Homo sapiens: one gene and its partners. The protein of the gene in region 4 purifies or fractionates together with the protein of the main gene of each other region. This does not show direct contact. Each region holds a gene or a part of one and is shown on either strand. Other genes may lie near its edges.

Region 1 (3,521 bases), on a different chromosome or scaffold from region 4:
ACCAGACTCGTTACTTCATTAGAAGATGATTTTGATGAGGAATTGGATACTGAGTATTATGCAGTTGGAAAGGAAGATGAGGAGAACCAAGAAGACTTTGATGAGTTGCCATTACTTACCTTTACAGATGGGGAAGATATGAAAACTCCAGCAAAGTCTGGCGTTGAGAAATATCCAACAGATAAAGAGCAGAATTCAAATGAAGAGGACAAGGTTCAGCTAACTGTGCCCCCTGGCATCAAAAATGATGATAAAAATATACTAACAACCTGGGGGGACACTATCTTCTCTATTGTCACAGGAGGTGAAGAAACAAGAGATACGATGGATTTAGAGAGCTCTAGTTCAGAGGAAGAAAAAGAAGATGATGATGATGCATTAGTCCCAGATAGCAAACAGGGGAAACCACAGTCAGCAACAGATTATAGTGACCCTGACAATGTAGATGATGGTCTTTTTATTGTAGACATTCCTAAAACAAATAATGACAAAGAAGTAAACGCAGAACATCACATTAAAGGAAAAGGGAGGGGAGTTCAGGAATCCAAGAGGGGCCTGGTACAAGATAAGACAGAATTAGAGGATGAAAATCAAGAAGGCATGACTGTGCACAGTTCTGTTCACAGCAATAACCTCAACTCTATGCCAGCTGCTGAAAAGGGTAAAGACACATTAAAATCAGCTTATGATGATACAGAAAATGACCTAAAAGGAGCAGCTATTCATATCTCAAAAGGAATGCTCCACGAAGAAAAGCCTGGAGAGCAGATTTTGGAAGGTGGCTCAGAGAGTGAATCTGCACAGAAAGCTGCAGGGAATCAAATGAATGACAGAAAGATTCAACAGGAATCCCTGGGTAGTGCACCACTCATGGGAGATGACCACCCTAACGCATCCAGAGACAGTGTGGAGGGAGACGCTTTGGTAAATGGGGCCAAACTGCACACGCTTTCAGTGGAGCATCAACGTGAGGAATTGAAAGAGGAATTAGTTCTTAAAACTCAAAACCAACCTAGATTCTCCTCTCCAGATGAGATTGATTTGCCCAGAGAACTGGAAGACGAGGTTCCCATTCTGGGAAGAAATCTTCCCTGGCAACAAGAAAGAGATGTGGCTGCCACAGCCAGTAAGCAAATGAGTGAGAAGATAAGGCTCTCTGAGGGAGAAGCCAAAGAGGACTCCTTGGATGAAGAGTTTTTTCATCACAAGGCAATGCAGGGCACAGAGGTAGGACAGACAGACCAAACTGACAGCACAGGAGGACCAGCTTTCCTTTCTAAAGTAGAAGAGGATGATTATCCCTCTGAAGAACTACTAGAGGATGAAAACGCTATAAATGCAAAACGGTCTAAAGAAAAAAACCCTGGGAATCAGGGCAGGCAGTTTGATGTTAATCTGCAAGTCCCTGACAGAGCAGTTTTAGGGACCATTCATCCAGATCCAGAAATTGAAGAAAGCAAGCAAGAAACTAGTATGATTTTGGATAGCGAAAAAACAAGTGAGACTGCTGCCAAAGGGGTCAACACAGGAGGCAGGGAACCAAATACAATGGTGGAAAAAGAACGCCCTCTGGCAGATAAGAAAGCACAGAGACCATTTGAACGAAGTGACTTTTCTGACAGCATAAAAATTCAGACTCCAGAATTAGGTGAAGTGTTTCAGAATAAAGATTCTGATTATCTGAAGAACGACAACCCTGAGGAACATCTGAAGACCTCAGGGCTTGCAGGGGAGCCTGAGGGAGAACTCTCAAAAGAGGACCATGAGAACACAGAGAAGTACATGGGCACAGAAAGCCAGGGGTCTGCTGCTGCAGAACCTGAAGATGACTCGTTCCACTGGACTCCACATACAAGTGTAGAGCCAGGGCATAGTGACAAGAGGGAGGACTTACTTATCATAAGCAGCTTCTTTAAAGAACAACAGTCTTTGCAGCGGTTCCAGAAGTACTTTAATGTCCATGAGCTGGAAGCCTTGCTACAAGAAATGTCATCAAAACTGAAGTCAGCGCAGCAGGAGAGCCTGCCCTATAATATGGAAAAAGTCCTAGATAAGGTCTTCCGTGCTTCTGAGTCACAAATTCTGAGCATAGCAGAAAAAATGCTTGATACTCGTGTGGCTGAAAATAGAGATCTGGGAATGAACGAAAATAACATATTTGAAGAGGCTGCAGTGCTTGATGACATTCAAGACCTCATCTATTTTGTCAGGTACAAGCACTCCACAGCAGAGGAGACAGCCACACTGGTGATGGCACCACCTCTAGAGGAAGGCTTGGGTGGAGCAATGGAAGGTGAGATGCCTATGGCCTTGTAGAACAGGGCTGGAGAAGCAGGTGGGTGGGTCGCTGAGGTGCCTCCTATCTTGTGAAGCTCTGTTCAGTTTCCAATGTGCCTAAAGGAGAGGGACAACACAGGGAGGTCCACATGTTCCTTCCTGCCATCTTTCTTTTAGGCTGGAGCATGGAGAAGAATTTCTTGCCGTTTCCCTTAGAATAGTTGAGACTGGTTAGCATTTTCAAAAGGAAACTTTGTAAAAAGCTAAAGAGAAAGATATAAACCAGAAAGTAATATACAAAATACAAATGTCATGTAAAATTATGAAAGGGTTTTATTGAACACAATTTTTCAGTCGTCAGATAACTGCTCTGTAACCATGGATTGACTGGTATAACTTTTAGATCAATGCCTTGGCTAAATTCCTACGTTCTCCCCAATTTTATCTTTTGTGGATGGCTTGTTCTTCCTGTTTCTTGGGAGCACTTACTCCAGTTAAACCCTCCTGGGCCGTAAGGTTCTTGCATGCAGATTAATCAAGATTGGGACAGGGATGCCTTCGAATGCAGTGCTTGATGCGTGGAAGCCATTCAGTTGAATTAACCCCGAGCCAATATCCTGACATAAGCATTCTGATTCCTAGTTCCTTGTTCTATTCTCTGCATCCAGGCTTTTCTCTTTCTTTTCTTTTCTTTTCTTTCCCTTTGCCCACCTGCCCTTCCTTCCTTCCTTCCTCTTTCTTTTTTTCTTTTCTTTTTTTTTTTCTTAAGACAGGCTCTCACCCTGTCACCCAGGCTGGAGTACAGTGGCATGATCATAACTCATTGCAGCCTCCAACTCCTAGGCCCAAGCGAACCTCCCATCTCAGCCTCCTAAGTGGCTAGGACTACAGGCATGCATCACTGTGCCCAAATAATTTTTATTTATTGTAGAGACAGGGTCTTGGTATGTTGCCCAGGTTGATCTTGAACTCTTGGCCTCAAGTGACCCTCCTACTTTGGCCTCCCAAAGTACTGGGATTACAGGTGTGAGCTACCGCACCTGGTATATCCAGGCTTTTCAGACAGATGTATCTGAATTGAGAGTACCAAGGGGACAGGAAGCCACAGGAAAACGTATTACTCCAGAGTGCTAATTTTTCCTAAGAAATGGGGGAGGAGAACTTTTTTGCATTTAATTAAAACATATATTTTGGATAAGAAGGCAATATTCAGATGAATTTTCAGGGTAAAATATGAGGCTACA
Region 2 (3,521 bases), on a different chromosome or scaffold from region 4:
GCACTTTGGGATGCTGAGGCGAGAGGATTGAGTGCGGGAGTTTGAGATCAGACTGGGCAACAACTGAGACCCTGTCTCTACAAAAAATTTATTAAAAATTAGCCAGGTATGGTAGTGCACGCTGGCTGAGGTGGGAGGATCACTTGAGCCTGGGAAGACTTCAGTGAGCCATGGTTGTGCCACTGCACTCTAGCTCAAGCAACAGAGCAAGACCCTGTCTCCAAAAAAAAAAAAAAAAAAAAAAAAAGTCTTATTAGCAGTGATGGTATGGGTGTTCTTTTTTCATGTTGAATTTTAGTGAGAAGCAGTTTCAGAATTCTTAGATTAAGTCAAGTCCCATAACATCATACATGTCAATATGGTAAGGGAGGGTTTTCATTTCATTTGGGGAACTTGACAGGCTTGGAAATATTAGTACTTTAGGGGAAGATAAAATGCCAAGCAGATTTTCCACATATTTTCAGATTGGCATAATTTTCCTGTTCATAAGCATTGGTTTGATACTTACCTGACTCTTGAAATAACATGGCTGTGGTTTTGTTGTTTTTTCATTGAGATGAGGGTCTCGCAGTGGCATGATCATAGCTCACTGTAGCCTTGAACTCCTGGGCCCAAGTGGTCCTCCTGCCTCAACCTCTGCATTAGCTGGAACTAGAGGCAGCTTGAGGTGTGCACCACCGCGCCCAACTTGTGTTGGTTTTTTGAAGTGTTTCGTTGTATAATGCTGGATCATGTGGTTAGCTAATTATGTGGCTCAGAATTAGTATTTCTAAGCAAGGGACCAACCATAGGGCCAAGTAGTATCTGTTATGTAGGCTTTAAAACATGGGGAGAGAAAGAGGAGGTAAGGATAAAGGAAAAGAACATACGTGTGTTAGGAACCCCTTTGATAGGGGCCGGGCGCGGTGGCTCATGCCTGTAATCCCAGCACTTTGGGAGGCCGAGGCGGGCGGATCACAAGGTCAGGAGATGGAGACCATCCTGGCTAACACAGTGAAACCCCATCTCTACTAAAAATACAAAAAAATTAGCTGGGCGTGGTGGCGGGCACCTGTAGTCCCACCTACTCCAGAGGCTGAGGCAGGAGAATGGCATGAACCCGGGAGGTGGAGCTTGTGGTGAGCCGAGATTGTGCCACTGCACTCCAGCCTGGGTGACAGAGCAAGACTCTGTCTCAAAAAAAAAAAAAAAAAAAAAAAAACCCTTTGATAGTGGTTGCATTTAGTAAGCATTTATTAATGGTTTTCTGCAAATCAGGTATTGGAAATACTTTATCTTTTTAAAAGTCCATTCCCTCTAGAGATTTATGGTATAATGGTAGAGGCCTCATATGAATAATTATATATTATAATGTAATAATACAAAACAAATCTAAACTAGATACATTGTTGCTTTGATAACAATATACTTTACATATCTCTAAAGACAGACTCTCTTTACATAACTGTAATACCATTACAGTTGACTCTTGAACAATTCAGGGGTTAGGGACACTAACCCGCCCTACCTCCGCAATGGAAAATCCACATACCACTTTTGATTTTCCCAAAACTTACCTGTTTTAATAGCCTACTGATGACCAGAAGCCTTACCGATAACATAGTCAATTAACACATATTTTGTATGTTACATGTTTTATTATACTGTGTGCTTTTTTTTTTTTCTTTTTTTGAGACGGAGTTTGCTCTTGTTACTCAGGCTGGAGTGCCAGTGGCAGGTCTCAGCTCCCTGCAACCTCCACCTCCCGAATTCAAGCGATTCTCCTGCCTCAGCCTCCCAAGTAGTTGGGATTACAGACATGCGCCACCATGCCTGGCTAATTTTTTTGTATTTTTAGTAGAGACGGGATTTCATCATGTTGGTCAGGCTGGTCTTGAACTCCTGACCTCAGGTGATCCACCCACCTCAGCCTCCCATAATGCTGGGATTACAGGCGTGAGCCACTCACTGTGCCTGGCATATACTGTGTTCTTAACAATGAAGTATGCTAGGAAAAAAGTTATTTTAAAAAATTGTGAAGAAGAGAAAATGTGTTTACTTTTTATTAAGTAGAAGTGGATCAGCCGGGCCCAGTGGCTCACGCCTGTAATCTCAGCACTTTGGGAAGCTGAGGTGGGCAGATTGCCTGAGGTTGGGAGTTTGAGACCAGCCTGGCCAACATGGTGAAACCCTATCTCTACTAAAAATACAAAAATTAGCTGGGCGTGGTAGCAGGCGCCTGTAATCCGAGCTACTTGGGAAGATAAGGCAGGAGAATCACTTGAACCCTGGAGGTGGAGGTCGTGGAGAGCCGAGATCGCACCATTGCACTCTAGCCTGTGCGACAGAGTGAGACTCCATCTCAAAACAAAAAACAAACAAACAAAAAAACGGATCATCATAAAGGTCTTCAAGTTGAGTAGGCTGAGGAGGAAAGAAAATACAGGAGGGCTTGGTTTTGCTATATCTCAGGTGGCAGAGGTAGAGGAAGTCGAATGGGATTCAGGAGATGCAGGCACACTTGGTGTAACTTTACAGGAAAACCTTACGAACCGTTTTGCATTTTCATTTCTCTAAAAATGTTTCTGTATAGTAACAATCCTCTTTCCATTTGCTTTAGTTTCAGTGCTGGTATAATAGAAGGGTCCATTCATAAAGGAAGTCCAAAGCAGTCTTAAGTAATCAGAACCCTTCTGCCAAATTGTCTAATGTCAATTTATTTTCTGGCACTGCTTCTTTAGTGTCTTCTTCCTCATCATCTGGCACTGGTTTGGAAGCAGCTCATCTCCATCAAGTGGTCTTTTAATTCCTCTGGTGTGGTGTCTGTTAGCTAACCCTTCACCTTCCACGTTTTCTTTGCCATATCCACAGTCTCTTTCGTGATTTCCTTGATGGGCTCTGTTGTAGATACTGCGAAGTCACGCGCAACATCTGGACACAGTTTTCTCTACCAGGAGTTTATTGTTTCAGTCTTGATGATGCCATGGTTTTTTCTATAACAACGATGACATCTTCAGTGGTGCTCTCCTTCCAGACTTCCATGATGTTCTGTGGGGGTTCTCTTCGATAGCATTGACAGTCCCTTCCAGAGTACCGTGTGCATCTTTACGTTTGTTTACATTTCTCTCAATGTGAATGGTACCATATACGGTCTGTAAGAGTTTGTGTGCATAAGTTTTGATAAATCTCAACTTTTTATTAATAGATTTATGTATATTTTATCGTAGTAAATCATAAGATAGGCTACATATGTCTTATGCATTCATGACAACTCTTTTTCTTAATTTTGGTTTGTCCGCAAGTGTTTTCAAATTGTTGGCAAACCTCCAAAAAATATTTCAATATATTTATTGAAAAAAATCCACATATAAAGTAGACTTACAGTTTAATCCTGTGTTGTTCAAGGGTCAACTGTATATGTTTTAAAGCAATACTCTGTTGGTATCAACTATCTATTGTTCAAATATCCCCAATTATCTTAAATTTTGCTTTTTTTTGTTTTTTGGTGTTTTGTTTTTTTTTTTCAGAGGTAGAGTCTCGTT
Region 3 (3,521 bases), about 68 Mb from region 4:
TAAAGGATGTAAGTAGATTCTTTAATATGGATCATTTGAATCAGTTGTCTAACTCACATTGAAAGTAGTGTATTTTCAAAAATCATGTGGTAGACAAAGAACTCATCATAGGCTGGGCACAGTGGCCCACGCCTGTAATCCCAGCAGTTTGGGAGGCCAAGGCAGGAGGATCACTTGAGGCCAGGAGTTCAAGACCAGCCAGGTCAACACAGTGAGATCTCCATCTCTACAAAAAAAAATTTTTTTTTAATTAGCCAGGCCGAGCACAGTGGCTCACACCTGTAATCCCAGTACTTTGGGAGGCTGAGGCAGGAGGATTGCTTGAGCCCAGGAGTTCAAGACCAGCCTGGGCAACATAGGGAGACCCTGTCTCTAAAGAATATTTAAAAATTAGCCTGACATGGTGGCTCATGCCTATAGTCGCAGCTACTCTGGAGGCTGAGGTGGGAGGATTGCTTCAGCCCGGCAGGTCAAGACCTCAGTGAGCAGTTATCGCACCACTGCACTCCAGCCAGCGCAGCAGAGCAAGACCCTGTCTCAAAAACAAAAACAAAACAAAACAAAATTCAACATGGTAAGTTTAAAAAGTAGATTTGAAAACAATTTATATGTGTATATGGCATAATTTCATTTATCAATAAAGATATGTTTGTACAGTTATTTTTTTCTACTTTTGCTTTAAGAAGAAAAGTACTTACGATATTATTGCTTTTAATATCTGCACTTACTTGAACACTTACCTAAATGTTCAGTGTTAATATTACTATTAGTTCATATTCAATATTGACTAGTCTCACTCTCCAGACTACCCCAAAGTATCTTCCACATTACTAGAAAAGAGATCTAACACTCATAACTACCCATTTAACTTCCCTGCCTACAGTCTAAAGTCCCCAGCCGCTTAAGACCCTGCCTTCCTCTGTAGTTTTCAGACTTCTCACACACCCTTTCTCATACACCTGATGCTCTGTGTTCTAGTATGTAAATTTCTTGCGCATGCCTCATTTTCCATGCTGTTATGTCTGAATTTATAGTTCCCTCAGTTGCCAACACCATCTATTTTCTTTACCTGGCTAACTACCACACATATAAGATTTTGCTAAGGCACTGCTTCTTCCAGGAAGCCTGCCCTGCCCATTGCCACCCCCAGGACAAGTAAAGTATCTTTCCCTGGACTGTCATGATAACCCTGTTGCCTATGTCTCTCTTGACTTTTATTATAACAAAGTGTTGGCAAACAGTGTGAACTCCCCAGGTAGTGTTAAGTCTTCTCTTGCTAATGATGCTCAATAGGCCCAAAGGCCTTATCTGGGGGTTGTCAAAACTCAAATTTCCTCAGATTATCCCTGCTCATGGAGACACAGCAAAAGCTCGTCTCTACAAAAAATGCAAAAATTAGCCAGGTGTGGTGGCATGCGCCTATAGTCCCAGCTACTTGAGAGGCTGAAGTGGGAGGATCGCTGGAGCCCAGGAAGTGGATATTGCAGTGAGCCAAGATTGTGCCAGTGCACTCCTGGGCGACAGAGTCTGTCTCAAAATAAATAAATAAATAAAATTTGTCTTGAATATGAAGTGAGTTTAATTTTTCCTTTATATTTTAAACTTCGTTTTGGGCACATATAGTTTCAAATAATATTTACATTTTGATGTTGAAATTTATAGGTATATGATGATGGAAAGTATGTGTATGTAGTAACAGAACTTATGAAAGGAGGTGAATTGCTGGATAAAATTCTTAGACAAAAATTTTTCTCTGAACGAGAGGCCAGTGCTGTCCTGTTCACTATAACTAAAACCGTTGAATATCTTCACGCACAAGGGGTAAGTCTTTTTACCACTCTATATGTACATACACACACTTTTTTCCTTTATGTTTGAGCTAGAATTAGATAGAAATTACTTTATGCCTGAAATGGAAAATAACTGCTATTAGCTGAATTATCCTACTGACCTTCCTCTATATAAACTTTTATTATTGAGATTGAAGTGTACCTTTGATATCCTAGCTTGTTTATGTTAAACTCTTGTGCTTCCAAGAAAAAGTAAGTGATCTCTTCCGACCTGGAAAACATAGCATTGTTTCTGCTAGGTCACTCTGTACTCATGAAAACCAGGCCCACTTCAGGTTAGAAGCAGAACCAAGGAATCCTGGTTTGTATTCATGTATAAAAGGAAATCCTTAAAACAATGAGGCCAAGGAGTCACATGCTTCGGCTGGTGGATATGCTCTTCGTTCTTCTTGTATGCAGATTTTTAGTAAACAGCAAAAGAAAATTGTATTTCTAGGCTGGGCACGGTAGCTTATGCCTGTAATCCCAGCATTTTGGGAGGCCGAGGCAGGCAGATCACTTGAGGTCAGGAGTTCGAGAAAATCGTATTTTTAAAACAAGGCGGCCGGGTGCAGTGACTCACGCCTGTAATCCCAGCACTTTGGGAGGCCAAGGTGGGTGGATCACCTGAGGTCAGGAGTTTGAGACCAGCCTGGCCAACATGGCGAAACCCTGTCTCTGTTAAAAGTACAAAAATTAGCCGGGCGTCATGGCTCATGCCTGTAATCCCAGCTACTCAGAAGGCTGAGGCAGGAGAATTGCTTGAACCCGAGAGGCGGAGGTTGCAGTGAGTTGAAATTGCACCACTGCACTCCAGCCTGGGCAACAGAGTGAGACTCCATCTCAAAAAAAAAAAAAAAAAAAAAAGAAGGGAAGTCTGGGAGGAAAGGAGAAAATGAGGGGAGGGAGGGAGGAAAGGAGAACAGCAGAGGAGTGAAGCAGAGGAGCAGAAAGCAAGGGGAAAATAAACAATTTTTTAAAAATTTTTTAGTTGACAAATTATGTATATTCATGGTATACAACATGATGTTTTGATACATGCATATATAAAAGATTACTTCTTAAGGAGTTCAGTTTCAATACATTCTTTTTGTTTTGTCTTTGCCCCTGAAAGCCAAGTAGAATGTGTTAATTCTGGAGCTTCCTGACTTCTAACTTATCAAGATTTGCCTAGTATTGTAACTTGAAATTAGTAGAACTCAGTAGTCACTGAGGAACTTATGACCTTGCAGTCATCAAAGTCTTCTGTGTTCTTTTCCCAATGCCTCATCAGTAATTCGTTATTAAAATAGTCTGGAGAAGTGATGTCCTGGATGTGAGGAACTAAATCTAATTTGATTGATTGGAACACAGACTCAGAATTTGGTGACAGAAGGCACACTTAAGTCTAAAAAGGAATGTCAGAGAAGCTTATGATAAAAAAGTACAGTAGTCCCCCACTAATCTGCAAGTTTGCTTTCTGTGGTTTCAGTTACCACAGTCAACCATTGTCAAAAATATTACAGTATTTTGAGAGACCACATTCATATAACTTTTATTACAGTATATTGTTACAAGTGTTCTAATTTATTATTAGTCATTGTTAATCTCTTACTGTGCCTAATTTATAAATTAAACTATATCATAGGTATATATATCTAGGAAAAAATATAGAGAGACTTCGGTATTATCCTCAATTTCAGGAATCCACTG
Region 4 (2,770 bases):
ATTGTGAAATCAAAATCTGGAGAAATGCTTATAAAATATACTACTAGCTTTTAAGTTTTAAGAAAGAAGAACGTAAGTTGTACAAAGATATTTGTACTTTGACAAACTGAATTTAAATAAACTTTATTTCCTCTCACTATAGTGTGGCTTTAGAATATATCAAGTACAACCTGAATGGACTTTTTGATTTTACATTTCCTATATCACTAAAATACTTAAACACAAAAATAAAATTCCACTCCTTTATTTCTTCTTACACCTGCCATTGTCTCTAATTCTAAAGAGAGAGCTATAGATTTCTGCAGTTCTAGAGGTGAAGATAGAGACATAGAGAGGCTGTGAAACACACATACAGCCCTGTTAGGTCTTTTGAATTCACACCTTATTGAAATCAGTGTAGAAGTAGAGTTACCTAAACCTTTATCGCCAATGCACAGCTTGGCCTGTTAAGTTAAATGTGGGTGTCAACCAGTGGAAAAGATCAAAGGACCTTTTGCAGCCTAGCTTGCCAATCTTCCAGTAACAACGAGGTGCTACCAATAGGCAGACTGTGTCTAGAGTCATGCATGGACAAGAGGAAAGTGAAAGTTGAATACTCTCTTCTCAATGGCATAGCTGGACTTGATTAAGTATTGACTCATAGAAGAGACATGTATGTTTCCCGGGGCTACCCCTTCATAGCTGCATTTAAAAATGGTGTTCAGGCCACTATGGCTGCTGTGGTTTGAATATTTTTTTCCCTCGAAAACTCATGTTGAAACTTAACTCCTAATGTAGCAGTACTGAGAGGCAGGGCCCTTAAGAGGTGATTGGGCCATGAGGTCTGTGCCCTCCTGAATGGATTAATCCATTCATGGATTAATGGATTATTATGAGTGGGGGACTGGTGACTTTATATGAAAAGGAAGGAAGAGTGACCTAAGCTAGCATGCTCAGGGTGCACCGTATGTCCCCTGGTCATGTGATGCTATGTGTTACCTTGGGACTTACCTGACAGCTCTTACCAACAAGAAGGCCATCCCAGATATGGCCTCTCAACCTCAGACTTCTCAGCCTGCCTAACTGTAAGAAATTAATTCTTTTTCTTTATAAATTACCCAGGTTCTGTTTTAAGCCTCAGAAAATGAACTAAGACAATGCCCTAGATGAGCTGCCAAAATCTGAGCAGATATGAGCCATCAGAATAGAGACCTGCAGAGGCCCAGGGCACTCAAACATAACTGTGCTTGTCTCAGTCAAACTTAATTGGGAAAAGGAGGAGTAAGAGCAGGCCCTTTCTGACATGCTTTAGCAGAGATAACTTATCAGGGCTAGTTTAAACAAATGTGTATAGGAAAGGATGTTATTTATATATTCTTACAAGAGTGTAAGGGCTCACACATTTACTGTACTCAGATCTGAAAGACAATGTTGCTTCTTGATTTTTTTCTATAATCACTATGACCGTGTTCACGATTCCCTACTCTGCAACTCTCAGCATGCATCATGATGATTCTCTAACACTGTCTGTCACCTTCCTGTATTTCCACAGAGCATGCAAGAACTTCTACAAAACTTCTATACCACACAGAAGCTGAAAGAGACTCTGGGGCACTAAATTCAGATCCTTTCTCCACACAGCAATGACATTTATCAATCTGACTCAGGTGTGGCTGTTGCCCCTTTTTGATATGGAGGGAACACTGAAAGACAGTTTCCTTCTGGAGTTCCAAATGCAATATAGAAAAAAAAACCCTGTGACTCTGGATTTTATTTTAAGTTCTCTAACAAGACTCCTACCTTGAGATCTTAGTCTAGGTAAAGAAAAAAAAAAAAAGGTCATGAAACACAAATGTCCTCAACTGTCATCATTCTATGTTTACTTTCTCCCAATCACATCACCTGAGGTAGAAGAGATTTTTCAGTTGCTATTTCTCTTCGTAATGAATTTTCTTTACATCCTGTCCACACTGCTGGAGATACTAAGTCCCAACCTAAATGATGGAAGGAGCATCTCCCCTCTTGTCTGTGGAAGATATCACATGAACTACCTAATTTTCAAGCATGGATCTCCATATTTCAAAGGAAAGTTTTAAAAATGTTTTTAAAACTTCAAATATCTCACCACAGTGAATTATGGGTAAGGTGATAATATGTTTAATTAGCTTGATTTAATCATCCCACACTGTATACATATGCCAAAATATCATTTTGTATGCCATAATATATATGATTTATGAATTATAGTAATATTAATAAAAGTGTTAAAGCTTTTTCTCTCTTGACAATGCTTGCTTTTTAAGATTATGGCCTGCTACAGACTAGGAAAAAGTCCTGCTCATGGTGCTAAGTGTTTAATATTGACACTATCTTTTTTTCTCTCATAATCCTAATCCCCTCCCTTAACACACACACACAGAAACACACACACACACACACACACAGAGCACATGTAAACAATGAGGGAAATGGGTACATATAGCTAAATATGGGGAAGGTTATAAATGGGTAAATATTAAAAAATAAAAGCACATTAGTATTTTTCAGATATTAGCCCCTTGACATAAACATCTATTAAAGATCTACTGTGTTTAGGACCCTAGTGATATACACTAATTAAAACTAAGTTTATGAAATTTGTACCAAATCCAAGCCTATAAAATTTGGATTATATTTTAAGTGATGGAGAATCAGAATTAAATGGCCTCGCCTACACAAAAGCCACCTGAGTTTGCCAAATTTACATTTCATCTAAGGCCATGGAGACCTTCCTTTAAATAGCCCTGTTTCA

The links.
Region 1: the proteins of KLHL4 (region 4) and MIA3 purify together in Homo sapiens (affinity purification with mass spectrometry, with the first as the bait; one large-scale study listed by BioGRID). This does not show direct contact.
Region 2: the proteins of KLHL4 (region 4) and ARIH1 purify together in Homo sapiens (affinity purification with mass spectrometry, with the first as the bait; one large-scale study listed by BioGRID). This does not show direct contact.
Region 3: the proteins of KLHL4 (region 4) and RPS6KA3 purify together in Homo sapiens (affinity purification with mass spectrometry, with the first as the bait; one large-scale study listed by BioGRID). This does not show direct contact.

Annotation. Positions count from the first base shown.
Region 1 is NC_000001.11:222,628,097-222,631,617, forward strand, and holds part of MIA3 (transport and Golgi organization protein 1 homolog isoform 1 precursor), read left to right. Parts: coding exon 1-2,293; intron 2,294-3,521.
Region 2 is NC_000015.10:72,575,330-72,578,850, forward strand, and holds part of ARIH1 (E3 ubiquitin-protein ligase ARIH1), read left to right. Parts: intron 1-3,521. UniProt on the Homo sapiens protein: E3 ubiquitin-protein ligase, which catalyzes ubiquitination of target proteins together with ubiquitin-conjugating enzyme E2 UBE2L3.
Region 3 is NC_000023.11:20,165,889-20,169,409, reverse strand, and holds part of RPS6KA3 (ribosomal protein S6 kinase alpha-3), read left to right. Parts: coding exon 1-8; intron 9-1,662; coding exon 1,663-1,821; intron 1,822-3,521. UniProt on the Homo sapiens protein: Serine/threonine-protein kinase that acts downstream of ERK (MAPK1/ERK2 and MAPK3/ERK1) signaling and mediates mitogenic and stress-induced activation of the transcription factors CREB1, ETV1/ER81 and NR4A1/NUR77, regulates translation through RPS6 and EIF4B phosphorylation, and mediates cellular proliferation, survival, and differentiation by modulating mTOR signaling and repressing pro-apoptotic function of BAD and DAPK1.
Region 4 is NC_000023.11:87,667,798-87,670,567, forward strand, and holds the end of KLHL4 (kelch-like protein 4), read left to right. Parts: 3' UTR 1-1,531; coding exon of another isoform or gene 1,532-1,597; 3' UTR 1,598-2,253; downstream 2,254-2,770.